Regions from separate parts of the Homo sapiens genome. Here region 2 is linked to region 1. Evidence: fine-mapped expression QTL. Tissue or cell type: whole blood. Region 1 holds a variant in brackets; the other region holds the start of a gene. All regions are shown on one strand. Distances are from middle to middle.

Region 1 (8,266 bases):
TTAAATCAGGAAATTGTCCGTGATACTCTTGGAATAAACAAGTAGCAATGGCCTGAGGGATCATTAACAGATACCAGAGTAAAGTGTTTTGCAAGGGTAAGTCAGTCTGTCCTGGGTATGAAGATGGATAAGAGAAAAGAAAATGTTAGGTTTTGGTGGGGTTTTTTTGCCAAAACCACAATGACCTTTGCACCAGTCTAGTAAGTTTGGGAAAGAGAGCTGTCTGTGTGTTTTCATTCCTAGAGCAGTACAAGCAGCAGGTGCATTGAATTTACTCAATTGTAAAGTGGCTTGGTGATCCCCAATTTGTTGTCATTGATTTGTAGTGTAAAAGACAACTGTACTTATGGGAAGTCTAGAAACCCTTGAGATTTGTGACCTGTAGAGGCCAAAGAGGTTTCAGAAGACTACATCAAGCCATCAAACAGTAAAGAGGCAAGGATGGCTCCACCCAAGCTGTCATCATTCTTTTTTAAGTTCTTTCATTTCCCTCTTCCCAACTTTGTAGTTTGTTCTGAAAGACTCACCTATACATTAGACTACAAGTTACATATAAATGAATTTTCTGCTGCAGATGCTCTTGTTACAGAGATATTAAAATGTACTATGTGTTGCATATGCCAGAGAATCTTGTACTTTCTGGATAATTAAAATACCATCGATTTATTACACATTCATACGCTTTATCTCTTTCCTCTCTCTCCTGATCCTACCTGCCCTCCCCAACACACACTCTCTCCCAAAGGATGTTCCCTTTCTACAGCTGCTGGAGGACTGGACTGCTACTACTACTCCTGGCTGTGGCAGTGAGAGAATCCTGGCAGACAGAAGAAAAAACTTGCGACTTGGTAGGAGAAAAGGGTAAAGAGTCAGAGAAAGAGTTGGCTCTAGTGAAGAGGCTGAAACCACTGTTTAATAAAAGGTAAATGAGAAGAACCTTAAAGAGCTTGAGAAAATATTTATGTTAAAGTCTTTTCTTCTTACTGATTTTATTTCATAATGTGCTCTCTTTTATGACATAGAGCAAATTCTCAGCCCAGTTTTTAGTTGCTGTGTGCAGTTTTCTCATCTTTCACAGAAGTGTAGCTATTTCCAAGACTGGATCCAAGAGACCAGCTTGTAGAAATTTAAGGATTATTTGACACCTACATATAATAGGACTTTAGAAATATCAGATAAACATATTTAGGCCGACACATGTCATTATAAGTGTCAGGAACCTTCAGATATATAAATCTGAAGTTGGTCCCTAAGAAACGAGACTATCCGATGAACATGGGCCCTTATTCATTGGAACATGGTTACTAACAGGCATTCTAAAAATAACTAGAATATTGAGCTATCAAGATAGCTCAAGTGTGTTTTAATAATTCATCATCAGCAATAAGGATGGTCTGTCAAGGTTATGAATATCTTAAAATTAAACAAATATTCACTCAGCCATGACCTCAAATAAATAAATCGAGCATGTTGTTTGTTTTGTTTTAATTAAGGAAAGGGATGCTGTTATTCCTGAGGCTGATAGCTAGTAACTCTCCTCTTCTTTCTTCCCACTTCTCTTTACAGCTTTGAGAGCACTGTGGGCCAGGGTTCAGACACATACATCTACATCTTCAGGGTGTGCCGGGAAGCTGGCAACCACACTTCTGGGGCAGGCCTGGTGCAAATCAACAAAAGTAATGGGAAGGAGACAGTGGTAGGGAGACTCAACGAGACTCACATCTTCAACGGAAGTAAGAAAACTCCCCTTCCTACCATCGATTGACTAACTGATCCCAAGTCAATCCCTCTGACAATCCTGTATGTCTTGGCCGTTTCTAGTGTCTTCAGCATATCATACGTGTGGTTCGGCACACCTGAGACTGTAATATACCACAGGATGCCTAATTCCACAGCTCCTCTGTAAGCCACAGCTCAGGACAGTTGTGCATTAAAATCAGTGAAAAACTTATGCAAAATGAAGACTCTAGCCAGAATTGTTTTGTTTTGTTTTGAGACGGAGTCTCTCTCTGTCACCCAGCCTGGAGTGCAGTGGCACAATCTCGGCTCACTGCAACCTCAGCCTCTTGGGTTCAAGCGATTCTCCAGCCTCAGCCTCCTGAGTAGCTGGGACTACAGGTGTGTGCCATCATGCCCAGCTAATTTTTGTATTTTTAGCAGAGACAGGGTTTCACAATGTTGGCCATGATGGTCTTGATCTTTGACCTCGTGATCTGCCCACCTTGGCCTCCCAAGGTGCTGGGATTACAGGCATGAACCACCGCGCCCAGCCAACTCTAGCCAGAATTCTGTAGCCTAGAGTCCTTTTATTCACCCAAATACTTTTAATGAGTTTCACACTAGACTTACAAATACCAACCACCACCACCACTTTTCATCAAATTAATCAAAGTTTACCAGTTAAATTTTAAGAGCTCAAACTTTTTTTTGCAAACTACTCAGTCTGCAAAACTTTACCCACTGATTTTTGTGCTATGGTGGTGATATTTCTTAAAAGTCATATTGCTGGAGAGGACCATGTAAGCACCTATGGTCCAATTCCCTCCCATACAGATAAATAAGTTATACAAGGTAGCTATTTACTCCTGGTAAATAATACAATAAAAAAGTAACAAAAGGGTTTGGGGCTGGGGATCATGTGACCAGGTTCTCCTCCTGTTTCCTAATCCTGTGACTGGAAAGTCGTATCACCTTTTGACCTTGTTTTCTCATATGCAAAACTAGGAGCAGAATCTTTACCTTATTCACCTCACAATTACTGAATCAAATGATATTTTGCAAAAGAACTGAACACAGTAAATACTAAAGAAGAGATATGCATTCCAATCTTAGATATCCACTCTGAATTTATCTGGGGCTAAGTTGAAATCTTAGATGGGCTTACCCCTGCTGCTCAGCAATTGTATGGAACCTCTTTTTTTGCTTTTAGAAGGTATTCAGAAAATGAATCAGTGTTAAGGTATGGATCATAATTGGTTTTGCATTGTCAGTTGCCTACCTTTAATGTTAAAAATTAAGATTATTCTTAAATGAATATCTGATTCTTGTCTTAAGGGAACACAAGTCTTTGTAAGCAAACAAGTTTAGCTTGGCATTTCTGGTATACCAAGTTCGTACTGATGAGGGTTGTTTAGTTATAACCAATTGCAATGAATTACGCAATTCCACTCTGCCATACCACCCAGATCTGCCTCTGCTTTTCCCCCACCCCATAGCTCCATTTTCCTTGTCCCTCCTCAGGTAATTGGATCATGCTGATCTATAAAGGGGGTGATGAATATGACAACCACTGTGGCAAGGAGCAGCGTCGTGCAGTGGTGATGATCTCCTGCAATCGACACACCCTAGCGGTGAGGCACCCTGTGTTGTATAAGCCGAGGGAGGAGACTGAAAGGACTGACCTGAGGTTGGGGAGAATATCCAGAGGGGACACGATACGTTGGGATGGACATTAGAAAACTAGGAGCTCAGTTTCTCTCTGTGTCAGACACGCATCTTCCATGGAAAATAGGCTGCTGAACCAGGAAGGAGCAGATGTTTTTTGGGTTTTTTATTTTGTTGGACAGGAGTCAAAACACTTAACCACCTGAATGTGTTATGCCATCTCATCATCAGGACAATTTTAACCCTGTGTCTGAGGAGCGTGGCAAAGTCCAAGATTGTTTCTACCTCTTTGAGATGGATAGCAGCCTGGCCTGTTCACCAGAGATCTCCCACCTCAGTGTGGGTTCCATCTTACTTGTCACGTGAGTATGCCTTCCTTTATCAGAACAGACCTTCCTTCCTTTTGTTTTTAAGGTCAGTAACTATATGGTGGTACATAAGCACAAATTGTATGTGTACATTATGCTGTAATTGATGGGGATAACTTTTTAAATCCTCTGGCTATAAAATAATTCTGCCAGGACACAGGGCTCACGCCTGTAATCCCAGCACTTTGGGAAGCCAAGGCAGATGGATCACCTAAGGTCAGGAGTTTGAGACCAACCTGACCAACATGATGAAACTCCGTCTCTACTAAAAATACAAAATTAGCCAGCACAGTGGCACATGCCTGTAATCCCAGCTACTTGGGAGGCTGAGGCAGTAGAATCACTTGAACCTGGGAGGTGGAGGTTGCAGTGAGCTGAGGTCGCACCACTGCACTCCAGCCTGGGCAACAAGGGCAAAACTCCGTCTAAAAAAAAAAAAAAAAAAAATTCTGACTGCAAGTTTTTGAAAAATGAGATTTAATGTTTAGTTGCCGGTATAGATTTGCATTTGGAGGTGCTTTTTTCCCCTACTGCAGGACTAGGCAATTTTTATATTATTTCATTAGATTATGAGAACTTCTAGAGAAATGGAATCATATACTTAATGGTGATTATTCTTGGCCATAGAATCACACGCTGTCACATTTTGTCTGGGCCTTTGCTTCTCTTGGACTGACAGCACTCTAACTGGTTTTCTAAGAGTTACCAGCCCCCTTTTTCATTTAGTATCACTACTCATTTTTCCTTTTCAGGGAATGTATCTTAGGAAACAGCTGACAATAAATGCAGAGGTTATCCTATCTGAGTTTTTACTATTTCCCAGTTCTTAAGTATAGATGTCTTTCTCTCTCTACAGGTTTGCATCACTGGTTGCTGTTTATGTTGTTGGGGGGTTCCTATACCAGCGACTGGTAGTGGGAGCCAAAGGAATGGAGCAGTTTCCCCACTTAGCCTTCTGGCAGGATCTTGGCAACCTGGTAGCAGTAAGTAACAGGGCAGCTGGTTGAATTTG[T/C]AGCCTGCAAACAAGGTTGGGTGACCAACCATCCTCGTTTGTTCACACTGAGGGGGTTCCTGGGACACAGGACATTGAGTGCTAAAACCACAAAAGTCCCAGCAAACAAGACAGTTGCCCTAGTACAGAGTAGTAAGTGGCACAGCATCCATTTCTGGCCTTGGTAAGACATTGCTGAAAGAGCAACACTGTTGACCAGATGGGCTCTTCTAAATCTGATTTAGCTTTTAAGAGGGCCTGGGTGGGAAGAAGGTGAGGCCTAATAAGAAGAAACTTTTTCTCCTGTTGCCCCAAATTGAATTTAGGCTGATTGTCAGATCTTTTAGGTTTTCTCATTATCCCTATAGAAAACCAATTCTTGCCACATTCCTAGACCATAAGTACACTTTCTCATATCCTAAAGTTAGATGCTGCGAATTATTTCCTTCTTTTTTTTCCCCCTACAGGATGGCTGTGACTTTGTCTGCCGTTCTAAACCTCGAAATGTGCCTGCAGCATATCGTGGTGTGGGGGATGACCAGCTGGGGGAGGAGTCAGAAGAAAGGGATGACCATTTATTACCAATGTAGATTGCACTTTATATGTCCAGCCTCTTCCTCAGTCCCCCAAACCAAAGCTACACAGCCAGATTTCTCAAGCAGTCTCAACTCCAGTCCCTCATCTCACCCTTACTATTGCTCTTGCTTTCCAGTTTGCTTTTGATTTGCATCTTCTCACTAGTAAAACTGCCTTCCCTTTGTTCCTTATTTTCTGTTTTTTCTCTAGAGAGGTACAGTTGTAAGTCAGAGTTAATATAATAGGGCCTGTGAAAACAGAGGCTTTTGCATTGTCTCTTGACATCAGAAGTTACAATAGGCATATGGGCAAAATGGTGTAGCAGGCTCACTGGCCGTTTGTTTTTTAAACACATTTTCACAAGTTTTTGAGACACTGGATTTCTTTAATTAAAAAAAAAATGCCAAGAAACATTATTTATACAGGGTTGATTGCTTTCATGTTGTTATTCTGTACCCTATAGTAGCCTCCATGAGAATCTGGTATTTCTTGCTGCTTGGAACTACTTTGCAGTGATTACTTGGTTGCAGTCCAAGTACTCTCGTTTAGTCTGAGCCTGGAGATGTTCTAGACTTGCTTCTCCCACCTCTGAGATTAGGACAGGAAAAATGTGAAATTTCCCAATTACAGGATTATACGGTACCATCACATCATTTGTGGAAATTGGGGTGACTGTATAGCTGGGATTGGGCTAAGGACTGTGGTCTTATCTGTCCACATACAGCCAAAATGCCTATCCAGAAATCCAGTTCGTTGGAAAGGAAAATTGGTACTCCTGTGCCACAGGGGTTCCAGAAAAGGGAAGTCACTTTACCTTGCGGTGGTGGGATCCTGATGTCTTTCATCCATTTGTAGTAAAAGCTGGTAAAGCTTTTCTTACTCCTGGTTCCCTACCAGTATTTCTAAACATGTCGCACTTTCTCCACAGGCATGTGGTTTTGACCTTTTTTTCAATCTTCTAGAAAGGGAACGGAAGCAGAAGTGGGACATCGAGGGCTCTGCTGTCCTCTGCGCTGGGTGTGGAATGCTGCTGCACCTGTCCCTTCTGCTGGCTCAGGGAAGTGTCTTCTTGCCCACATTTCTGTGGGGAAAGGTTTTTAATCCTCTGATGCTTCCATCTTCCTGTTTAGGCCATGTGCCCAGAAACCTGGACTGATCTTTCTTTAATAGTGAACCCCTGGGCCACTGAAGAGTAACATGGCTCCACTGGACACAAAAGAGGGATGGAATCAACAGGCAGGGGGCCTTTTATAAGCCTTAGGAAAAGAAAATGAAACTATTTCATCTTTGGACTTTTCAATACTATTGGAGTGATTTTTTTCTTTCTAAACAGGGAAAATAATGTTACAAAAGCATCTTTTTTGTTATTTGTTTGCATCCCTCCCCCACACCCTGGTGTTTTAAAATGAAGAAAAAAAACCATCACCTTTTGTACAAAAACTCTTAATGATTAAAAAACAAACAAAACATATTGGCCTTGTCATTTGTGTGAAAGTGGGCAAAGACTGGAATAGAGTAAGACAACTGAAACCAATTTTCATCCTTTTACTGAGGAAAAAAATATTTAATATTTTTGTTATATAAGGAATAGTGCCTAAGGCAGGTACTTATACTCCTGACCTCAGCCCCACACACTCTGGTTTTATAAAGCTATAGGACAGAGCAGAGATGGAACTGAAAAACAGGGTAGAAAATAACATAAATTGGAGGGGAACAGTGGGATGCAGAAAGAATGACAACAGCCACATGTGCCCCAGTCAAATACTTTTAGTCCCTGCAGCAGAAGATGCCAACCAAGTCTCTATACTGGCTGGGGATCCTGCCATGGATGCAGGAGAAAAAATTCAATCACAAGGGAGTAAGTGACAACAAAAAGAAAAAACTCTGAGCCACAGCTACACTGGGAGGGGGGAGGACCAGATTTTGCTACTTCTGTCACACAAGCTAGAAAAACCCTACCTCTCCCATTGGGCAGGCAACCTGACATTCCACCCAGTTCCTTGCCTTACCATACTATGTATTCCTCCTCTTGGAGAATTAAGACCTGGGCTAAATGCTCCACTCCAGGATAAGGCTGAGCAGTCCTAGTTCTCTAGACTGCCTCTTTTATAAAGATTGGATTAAGGTACGTGAAATGGTGAGAACTGTAAAGATTTTAAAAAATAAAGTAGAACCCAGAGAAAATGTCAAAGCTGCCGCCATGTAGCACCAGCAACCAATTCTTGCACTTCTCTTCCCTGTCTCAGTAATCCCCTACAGAAGGTTACATGATTGGAACAACTCTTTCTTCCCTGCAAAGTCTGCTGGTACCAGGTTATAACCTGGACAGTGGAGAGTGTCTGCCTTAGGCTGGTTTGTGCAAGAGGGCCACCTTAGGTCTCCTTGAGGACATTTATCTTGGCGCAGATCTTGAGGGCAGGGCCCAGCTTGATGTTCATGGCACTCATAAGATGTTCTTCTTTAAGTAATAAAAGGGCCTGTCCATCAATCTCCTGTGAGCGAAATTCCTCTGCAATCTCTTGGCAGCCTAGAAGAAATGGTGAGAACATGTAGGTAATGCCAGATGATAGGAGAAGGGAAGCTAAATGAAACTGAGGTCTAGCAATGATTAATTCCAAAGTACCTGTCCTAAATTCAGTAATATGAAGTCAGATGGCAAGCTTTAAAAGCAAAATGAAATTAGAAAGCAACTGGTATTTAAAAAATGGCCAGGTGCAGAGGCTCACGCCTATAATCCCAGCATTTTAGGAGACCAGGGCAGGCAGATCACTTGAGCTCAGGAGTTCAAGACCATCCTGGGCAACATGGCAAAACCTTGACTCTACAAAACATACAAAAATCAGCTGGGCATGGTGATGCATGCCTATAGTCCCAGCTACTCGGGAAGCTGAGGCAGGAGGATCATTTGAGCCCAGGATGCGGAGGTTGCAGTGTGCCAAAATTCATG
Region 2 (8,000 bases), 28 kb after region 1:
ATACTGTATAACCTAGGTACGGAGTAGGCTACATAATCTGGGTGTGTGTAAGTGCGCTCTATGACAGTCACGCAATTACAAAATCGTCCAACAATACATTTCTCAAAACGCGTTCCTGTCATTAAGTGACGCGTGAATGTAATTCTATGGTTTATTCTCCATAGGATGTTAAGAAAAGTAAAGCAGTGCAATTTATACAAACTTGTTTCTCCAATTGGGAGCTGGAAATACATGCCATAGCAAAGACTAGATCGGGTGAAAATAAACAAAATGCCGATTAATGTAAAGAAAATAAGAAAAAAAGCTGGGCATGGTGGAGTGTGCCTATAGTCCCAGCTAGTCAGGAGGATAAGATAGGAGAACTGGGAGTCTGAGGCTGCAGTGAGCACTGATCGCACCACTGCACTCCAGCCAGGGCAACAGAGCTAGACCTTGTCTCAAAAAAAAAAGAAGAAAATGTAAAAGTATATTTTAGGTATACAGTAAAGGTAATACAGCCCTAATGGGTTGGAAATAATGAAAAAATAAATAGTGGCTTCTAAAGATTCCTTCACGTAAAATTTTCAACGAATTCAACTAATTGGCATTTTTACATATCAGTATGCTAATACAGATTTATGAAATGAAAATAGTAGTTTGGTTTTAGTGCTAACTGGACTTTACTGTATTCTTATTCTTTAATAATTAGAACTATTTTTATGATATGTATAGTTATTCTAGTAACCAAAATATTTGCTAAAAGACCTCATTTCCTAACAGAATTAATAAAAACATGGAATTTGCTGTTTGTTTAAAAATAAATCTCTAAAGAGTTCCATGATACTTCTATTACTCAAGGGGATTTACAAGAATGGCCAAAGATTAAAAACCTGGCAATCCAGTATGAGAAAGGGTTAGTTAGAATCTAGCTAGATGGACTGAATGTGTTTTTTAAATCCTTATTTGAAAGACCAGATTTCACTGTTTGCTTGCCTAAACATTTGTAAACTCCTAAGATTCTCAGAGCTGGAAGACAGCTTAGTCATCATCTAACCCAACTCTCCCCAGTTTGTTGAAAAAGAACTGAGTACAATTATTTTCCAGCATCACTGCCTACCACAAGCCAAGACTCACAGACCATGGCCCCTCAGAGCTGAGTCTCACCTGCACTGCTTGTCGTTCATAAAGTGACATTTGAGCTATCTGGGGCCGAGAGCTGCCCCCTGAGCTAGAACTCCCATTGGTGGAATTGGAGTTCTGCTCGCTCTCAGTCTCCATGATAGTGGTCCAGGGTCCCCAAGGCTGGTGCTCTGTCTGACTCAAGACCTAGAGGGAAGCAGTAAAAGGTTAAAATTTATATCTTGATCCCAAGCTGTTATCTCATGTTATTATTCAAAAACACAGGAAATCCATAAGTATCTAAGAATCTTCCTCCTCTTCCATAAGCCATGATTTCTCATCTTAAAACTCCCAAATCTTCAATACACTCTTGCAACCATGTCTTCCCAATACTACCATCTTTTGAAGCTATGCAGTCTCAAAAGAAACAACCTTTACGTATTCCCTCATGGCTGTCATTAAATAAAACGGCCAGAATGTGAGATGGCACCTTACAATACCAAAGTTACCTTACATTCCCATAGCATTTTTTAACAGTTTAAAATCTTTCCACTTAAAAGTTTTGGTTATCTCATTTTTGTCTCCATCTGCATCGTTATCATCCAAATGAGTCACCATATACTGGAGAGCCACTAGTTGCCTCCTTTCACTGGGCTAGGCACTTCACCTATGCTGTATCTCTCTCATAGTAGTGCTGTAAAGTCAACACTGTTATCCTCATTCTACAATTTGAGACATAAGGTTTTCTGAGGTTAAAGAAGTTGCCCTAGTAAGTATCAAGTCTTTGGACTAACACATGCTTCTTCAAACCAAACTGTAATTAAGGCAGTGTCATTCACTATGATAGTGAGTAGTTATCCTCATTTTATGGAGGAGGACCTTAAGATACAGACACATTCAGTGGGTCATGGAAGGTCATAAAACTAGGAAGCAGAAGAGCTCACCTACAGCCCACATAGCCCAAATAGCTGCCTGGTTCCAGCTCAGGCTACTAATAACACCTCAGGCATGTTGCTTTCCTTCCTTATACCTGTTTCCTCACTGCAAAGGAGGCTTCATACTGAATGTAATATATCATTTTAAGAAATGACTCCGGAGTATGAAACATAGAAATACACACAATGAAAATCTTCAAGAAAGTAAGATGCAACTTTATAATCTACTAACATGTCAGAATTTACCCACTGGGGACTACACTTACATTTGCAAAAAGACACATATGAAAACACTGCTAAGAACCAAGCAAAGAGGCAGGAGATGAGAAGAAGAAATATTCTTCCAAAGCAGCACTAAATGACAATAAGGTTTTTACTCATTCTTTTTTTTTGTTTTTCTCTTTTGTTAAGCTACACACTATTTTCTCTACTTCTGAGGCACTGGGCCACTAGAAATATCAGGTCACCAAAATATTATCTGGCTTAAGAATATAAACATCAAACCAGAATTTCTGCTAAGTGTTGTCAACAGTTTCATTAGGGTGAATGGACTGGTCTTAGGGATTGCATCCAAAACAAACAAACAAGCAAAGTATCAAACTGCTTGGCCTTGGCAATAAAGCTGAGGATATTTCTTATTATCTCATTCCCAGTATCATCCAATCACACTATTATCCCCCCCCAGTCTTTAGTTTCATTTAGGACTAGCAAATGTCACTGCAAACATGTATATTACCCAAAAAGTACATAGGAAAAATCATATCAGCTTCAACTAGTCTACCTTCTCCCCACATCTTTTGCCAAAATATCAAAGCACTAAACAGATACAGACCCATGAATCCTCATTATCAGCATGTGAAGAAAAAAAGTGGGTAAGGATTAGAGGCAGCACGGCACAGTTTTATAGATTACTGGATTTAGTTCACTGGACTCAGAGACACGAGACCCCTTTGCTAGGTATAGAGAACATAATTCCTACATTCACATGTGAAAATACAAACCGTATGACCCCTCGTCTTCCCAAACCTGAATTCTGATTAATAATTTTTTTTGGATTGTGAACTAGAAATAAAAATGTAAAGGGACCAACTTAAAAGTCTCAATAAAATCAAGGGAAACTGCCACCAAAACCAGGATTCCTGGATCCCGGGCACATAAATGTATTCATTTGTGATCAACATTATGACTACAAGATTAAATATAAAAAATGGAGACAACAAACAGTTTGGGCAGCACCAGGTATCAAAATTTTCCAAATTAAACTGGAAGACAGTGAGAAGCTGATCCACAGATGCCCCCAGAGTAGCTAAGCCATGGTCATCTTAAAAGGTAGCATGTGGGCATACATGGGGTTGGGTAGGCGCACAGACCTACCGAAGGGAGTTAGAATGGGACATTGAGGTGGACTTAGCATTGGGCCGAGAGTTGGAGAAAGTCAATATCCCTAAGCACGAAACTCTTATCATGCAGAAAGGATGGGACATAGGAAGGGGGACGGGAGAAGGGGGTGGTTCAGGGAAGACTGTGCCAAAGACACGGTAATAATCAAGAGAACAGGGAGTAGACGCCCAAGGGTCCTCGTTCTATATAGAACCTTGATGAAAATGATGTTTCAAAGAGAAATCAAATACACTGGGGGAAGGGGGTGGATCCAGTGGTGCGCCGGGAATGAACTGACCCAAGTGAGCTGGGACATGTGCATACAGAGAGCAGAGGCAGAAGTCAAGGAACTGGAGGCTGAGGAACCCAGCGGACCACGAAAGCAGGGAGATAACTAGACAGCATGCTCGGCTGGAAGGACCAAAGTCAGAGAAGGAAAAATGAATAAGAAAATGAGCAGTCAGAGGCAGCTAGGGTGACGGACAGACAGCATGAAGCGCAGCAGAATGAATAGCCAGAAGACTCGGACAGGCAGAGCCGAAGGACCGCAGAGCTCAGCGCCGGAGGTAGGCAGGGAAAGCAACTGGGGGAGGTACCTGGGGCGTTACACAGATGGAGGTGGCTGAGGATACATCCCCGCGCAGCCAAGCCCCCAGAGGTCCTGCCCCTCCCCGGCCCTCGGTCGCCCGGTTACCTTCTCGCCTGGCTGTGCACCCAAGTCTTCCCCGGGGGCGTCCACCTCATGTGCCGGGGTCCCCAGTCGCCAGGCTGGGCTGGGGGCTCGCTCGGCCTCCGCGGCGGGCTCCCCTCGCCTCCTCCCCTTCCTGGAGGGGCGGGGGCGCCGAGGGCGGGGTGGGAGGCGCCCGGCGCGACCGCGGCTCCCCGCCCCTCCCGCCGCTCCGGGTGCGGGCCCGGCCGCGGCTCAGCCAGGCCTCCGGGGCTCGCTCCGGGCCTGTCACTTCCTGCCCGGCCGAGAAGGTGGGGGCCGCAGGCCAGGGGCTGCGGGCCGGGCTGGAGGAGGGGGCTGCGGGGAGGTGCTTCCGGGGCAGCCGGACCCCCCCCCCGCCGTCCCTCCGCCTCCCCTCGGCGCCCTCCGCCCCCTCCCTCCCGCGCGTCCCTCGTTTCCTGCCGGCGCCCGTTGCCATGGCGACGCAGCTCCCGGGCCTCTGCGCTCCAGGCCCAGGGGTTTTTTCCTCTCTTGCTCTCTTTCTCCTCTTTTTTACCCCCTTCTTTCTCTCCGAGTTCTGCTCGCCGGTTGGAAGGACGAAACTAAGAAAGTGCTGGCCTCTAGTGGGGAACGCACCTCTCGGAGAGGAGAGGGAGATGGGAGAAGGGAGGGAAGTGACGTGAGACGGGGAGAAAGAAGGTATTTTCTGGAGCTGCTGGGAATAAGGGGTAGAAAGAAAGGATCAAAGGGACCAACAGACAGAGAGGGAGAAAGAGCAAAGCAACGACCCCTAGAGAAACGATAGACTGGGAAAAGAAATGAAGCAAAGGAAAGGAAGGAAAAGGCGAGAAAAACTTTGAGAATGAGAGAAAGGAGAGAGAAGGTTGATTGTTTAATCCCTCACCTCAACTCCAAGAAGGCGGGAAAGAATGCTGCAGAAACAGCTAACCCATTAGGAGTTGACTTCATTTTCAAAGCAGCAACCTAATGTAACTTCCTTTGGATAGCATTTAAGTTTGTCATTTCAGGGATTTGTGTGTGCTTCGATTTCAATATGTATATGAGTTCGAATGACAAAAACGGGAAAAGGCCAGAGTATAACGAGATGTAGAACAATGGGGCTGTCTCTGGGAACACTAAACATTTGATAGGGGAGCCGTTGTCGTTGTATTTATGATATCAACTTACCGGTTTTTAATTACTCTCTCATCGTTCAACATTCAATAAATATTTATAGAGCGTCTACTATGTGCTAAACCGTGGAAGCTTGGATTGCATCAGTGCACGAAACAAAGATAACTGCCTTACTGCCTTCATTAACCTTTACAGAAGGGTCTGGGGGATGCCTCGTGGATTAACAACTGGGATTGATGCCTTTTCTCTTGCTCTCAGTCTTTTCCTAACCTCTATCCTAAACAGTTATTTTCTCTGTCAATCCACTCTTCCTTTTCTCCTTTAAAAGCCCATGCATGGTTTGTTTATAGAGAAAAAAACAGAAGTGTTATCTTTGCTTATAAATTATATCCATTTAGATTTTGCTTTGAGAGAGGAGTATTTGGACTCCAAGGTCTTTCATTTGTGGCAGCCAGATTAAAATCGGAGAACAATTTCTGCCAGGCTTCTAGGAACTAGTCAGACAGGTATGTGAGGGAAGAAACCGGAGGGCAGCCAAAGGACTGGAAAAGCGAAGACACGGGGTATGAGGAGGTGAAAGGGTGTGTTACCAGGCCGTGGATGACAGGCACTGGCTGAGGATGATTTGAAAAGATTCTGACTGGTAGAACTAGTGGTGAAAACGAGGTAAAGCATTCGTTGTTTAATTCACACCTGGATTTTTGGCATGTCAAAGCAGTTAAAGCTTTCTTGCAGAAGTTTAGAAATGGATATCGATTGAGCCTAGGCGGAATTTTCTAGCACCAATGGAAAAAAAAAGCATCTATAGATAATTTTCAGATTATACAACATTAAAGTTAAGAAACATGACTCATGTGCTTCCTTAGTTTCCCTGGGAGAATTATCACTGTTAAGTGTCTAAAGAAGATTTGTAAGCTATAACAAGAATAAGGAATGCAGATATCAGAGGGTATGGACTTGTTTTTCTATAGCCTATGGAACTTGTGTACCAAGAGGGTACATGACCATATCGCATTTCACCCTCCTTACAAATGGAGCAGAATTACCGCTACTGCATATAGTTACATTCCACCCCTAAAGATTTTTTTTTTTTATTTACTAGGTCACCGGCTCCTATAGCTACTAGATAATGTTAGGGGATAAGCGATGAATACTTTTGTTGAGTGCCTGTTATAAATTTAGCCTGAGAATAATCTATCATGAGGCGAGCTATACTGATTATGGGCCAGTAGTTTAATTTTTATATGTAAAGGTGTGTGCTCCATATATCACAGGATTCTTTTCAAGTTCATTTTTCTCCAAGTCAGGCCAGTGTTCTAAGGTCATAGGTCTAAACAGTTCCCACCAAAAAAGATTTAGTATAAAAAAGAAATATATCAACAGCAAAGTAAAGTTATAGGAAAGCCTCCATCCATAAGAAAATCATTTTCATAGACTAAATCAGCTTGAGAGCAGGCATTGAAGAACTTATCTCGGTCTAAACAGCAAAACAATCTGTGTTCCCTAGAGAATACTCAACTTTTTTTTCTTAATTTTTCTAAAGTTTCTCATTTTCATTTAATGACTCTGCTTGAATTAGACTTTTCTTTTTCAAACAAAATGGTTCTTCTGAATGGAGGCTACAGAATGTCTTTACTCTGCATAACACTGAAGGCCATTAGCCTAAACAGGTGAGAAGGAAAAGCATTTAATCCGGTGTATGGAAATGGAAGCCCTCCTGCAAACTTCTCTAAATAAGGAAGGATCCTGGTTTGAAAGGCTGTCGATGTTTGGCAGCAACTGAAGCAAATAGACTAGAAGTTAAGCTAATAGAACTTTTCATATCAACTGAACATTGCTTAAGCATTCCTCAAGCTTCTCCTGTAAACCTAGCATTCTGCAATAAATTGTGAAGGAAGAGATGTCCTTTACCCTAAAGGTGTTAGTATCTTTGGAATGTGTCTTTCTACAAGTAATCAAGTAAGAATGTGTGACCATGTTTTTATGCAAATATGGATAGGAAGAAGTAGAGAAAAAAGGAAATCATAACCTTTACTCTCCCCACCACCAACTGTGGCTGTGAACCACCATACACAGCCCACCTGTGTCTCACTATAATTCTGCATGCCACTTTAAGGTCTAGTTGGGAGAAAATGAAGATTGAGTGGATTTATAGGCTCTTAGATATTTAAAGGAAAAAAAAAGAACTTTAAAACTAAGCCCCTCAGTTTTCAGTGAAGACAATTGAAGTCTAAATGATAAATGTAGAAGAGGGATATTTCGTAATCCCTGGAAAATAGAAAATGTCCAATAAATATTAGTTAACTGAATTAATTTCCTAGATTCTTGCCCTTCTCTCATAGGAAAAGAATATGAAATTAAAAGATATAAAGGATACCTCTCATCTCTCGCTACTAATACCTACCATAGATCCTTTCTTCAAGCAGAAGTTTAAAATTAACATACTAATTGGTTCAGCCCAATATTCCATCCATCATTGCCCGCAAAAGATATAGAAGTACCCCTACATCCTTAAGGAGCATAAGACTGACGATAACATACTCTTCATCAGTATTGACAGTTATAATGATGGCAAGTTATGCACCTTTCCTTAACTTTGGTTTGCTTTCAGTAAAACAGGGGTAACACCTGGTAGTTGGTGGAAATAAGTGAGATGTTTGTAAAGCACTTCACATTGGGACCTGACACATAGCACAGGCTATTATTAATTTTCCTTAGTAACTAATATATTTTTGTGATCACCAAATAGAACTAAACCATTCTTTATGTTTTATTCAGTTTACATC

What was found. PIP is the estimated chance that this variant, and not a neighbour inherited with it, causes the effect.
Region 2: PHC1 starts here. The variant in region 1 is fine-mapped to the expression of PHC1 in whole blood (TOPMed, PIP above 0.99). The same link has a PIP of 0.9 or more in T cells, blood mononuclear cells, fibroblasts, lung and skeletal muscle.

Annotation. Positions count from the first base shown.
Region 1 is chr12:8,938,885-8,947,150 of GRCh38, reverse strand. It overlaps PHC1 (polyhomeotic homolog 1), which reads right to left. Exons shown (of 15, transcript NM_004426.3): 15 at 5,684-7,846. The coding sequence ends at 7,692. M6PR (mannose-6-phosphate receptor, cation dependent) reads left to right here. Exons shown (of 7, transcript NM_002355.4): 2 at 746-922; 3 at 1,567-1,733; 4 at 3,241-3,350; 5 at 3,616-3,746; 6 at 4,609-4,735; 7 at 5,211-6,790. The coding sequence starts at 747. The coding sequence ends at 5,333. Among named protein-coding and RNA genes, the nearest start is that of M6PR, 6.6 kb to the left of the region's middle. The variant T/C (reference allele first, on the strand shown) is at 4,765.
Region 2 is chr12:8,910,935-8,918,934 of GRCh38, reverse strand. PHC1 (polyhomeotic homolog 1) reads right to left here and starts at 4,426. Exons shown (of 15, transcript NM_004426.3): 1 at 4,108-4,426; 2 at 1,144-1,305. The coding sequence starts at 1,257. RefSeq lists silencers at 3,975-4,264, 4,335-4,384, 4,435-4,544 and an enhancer at 6,741-7,293.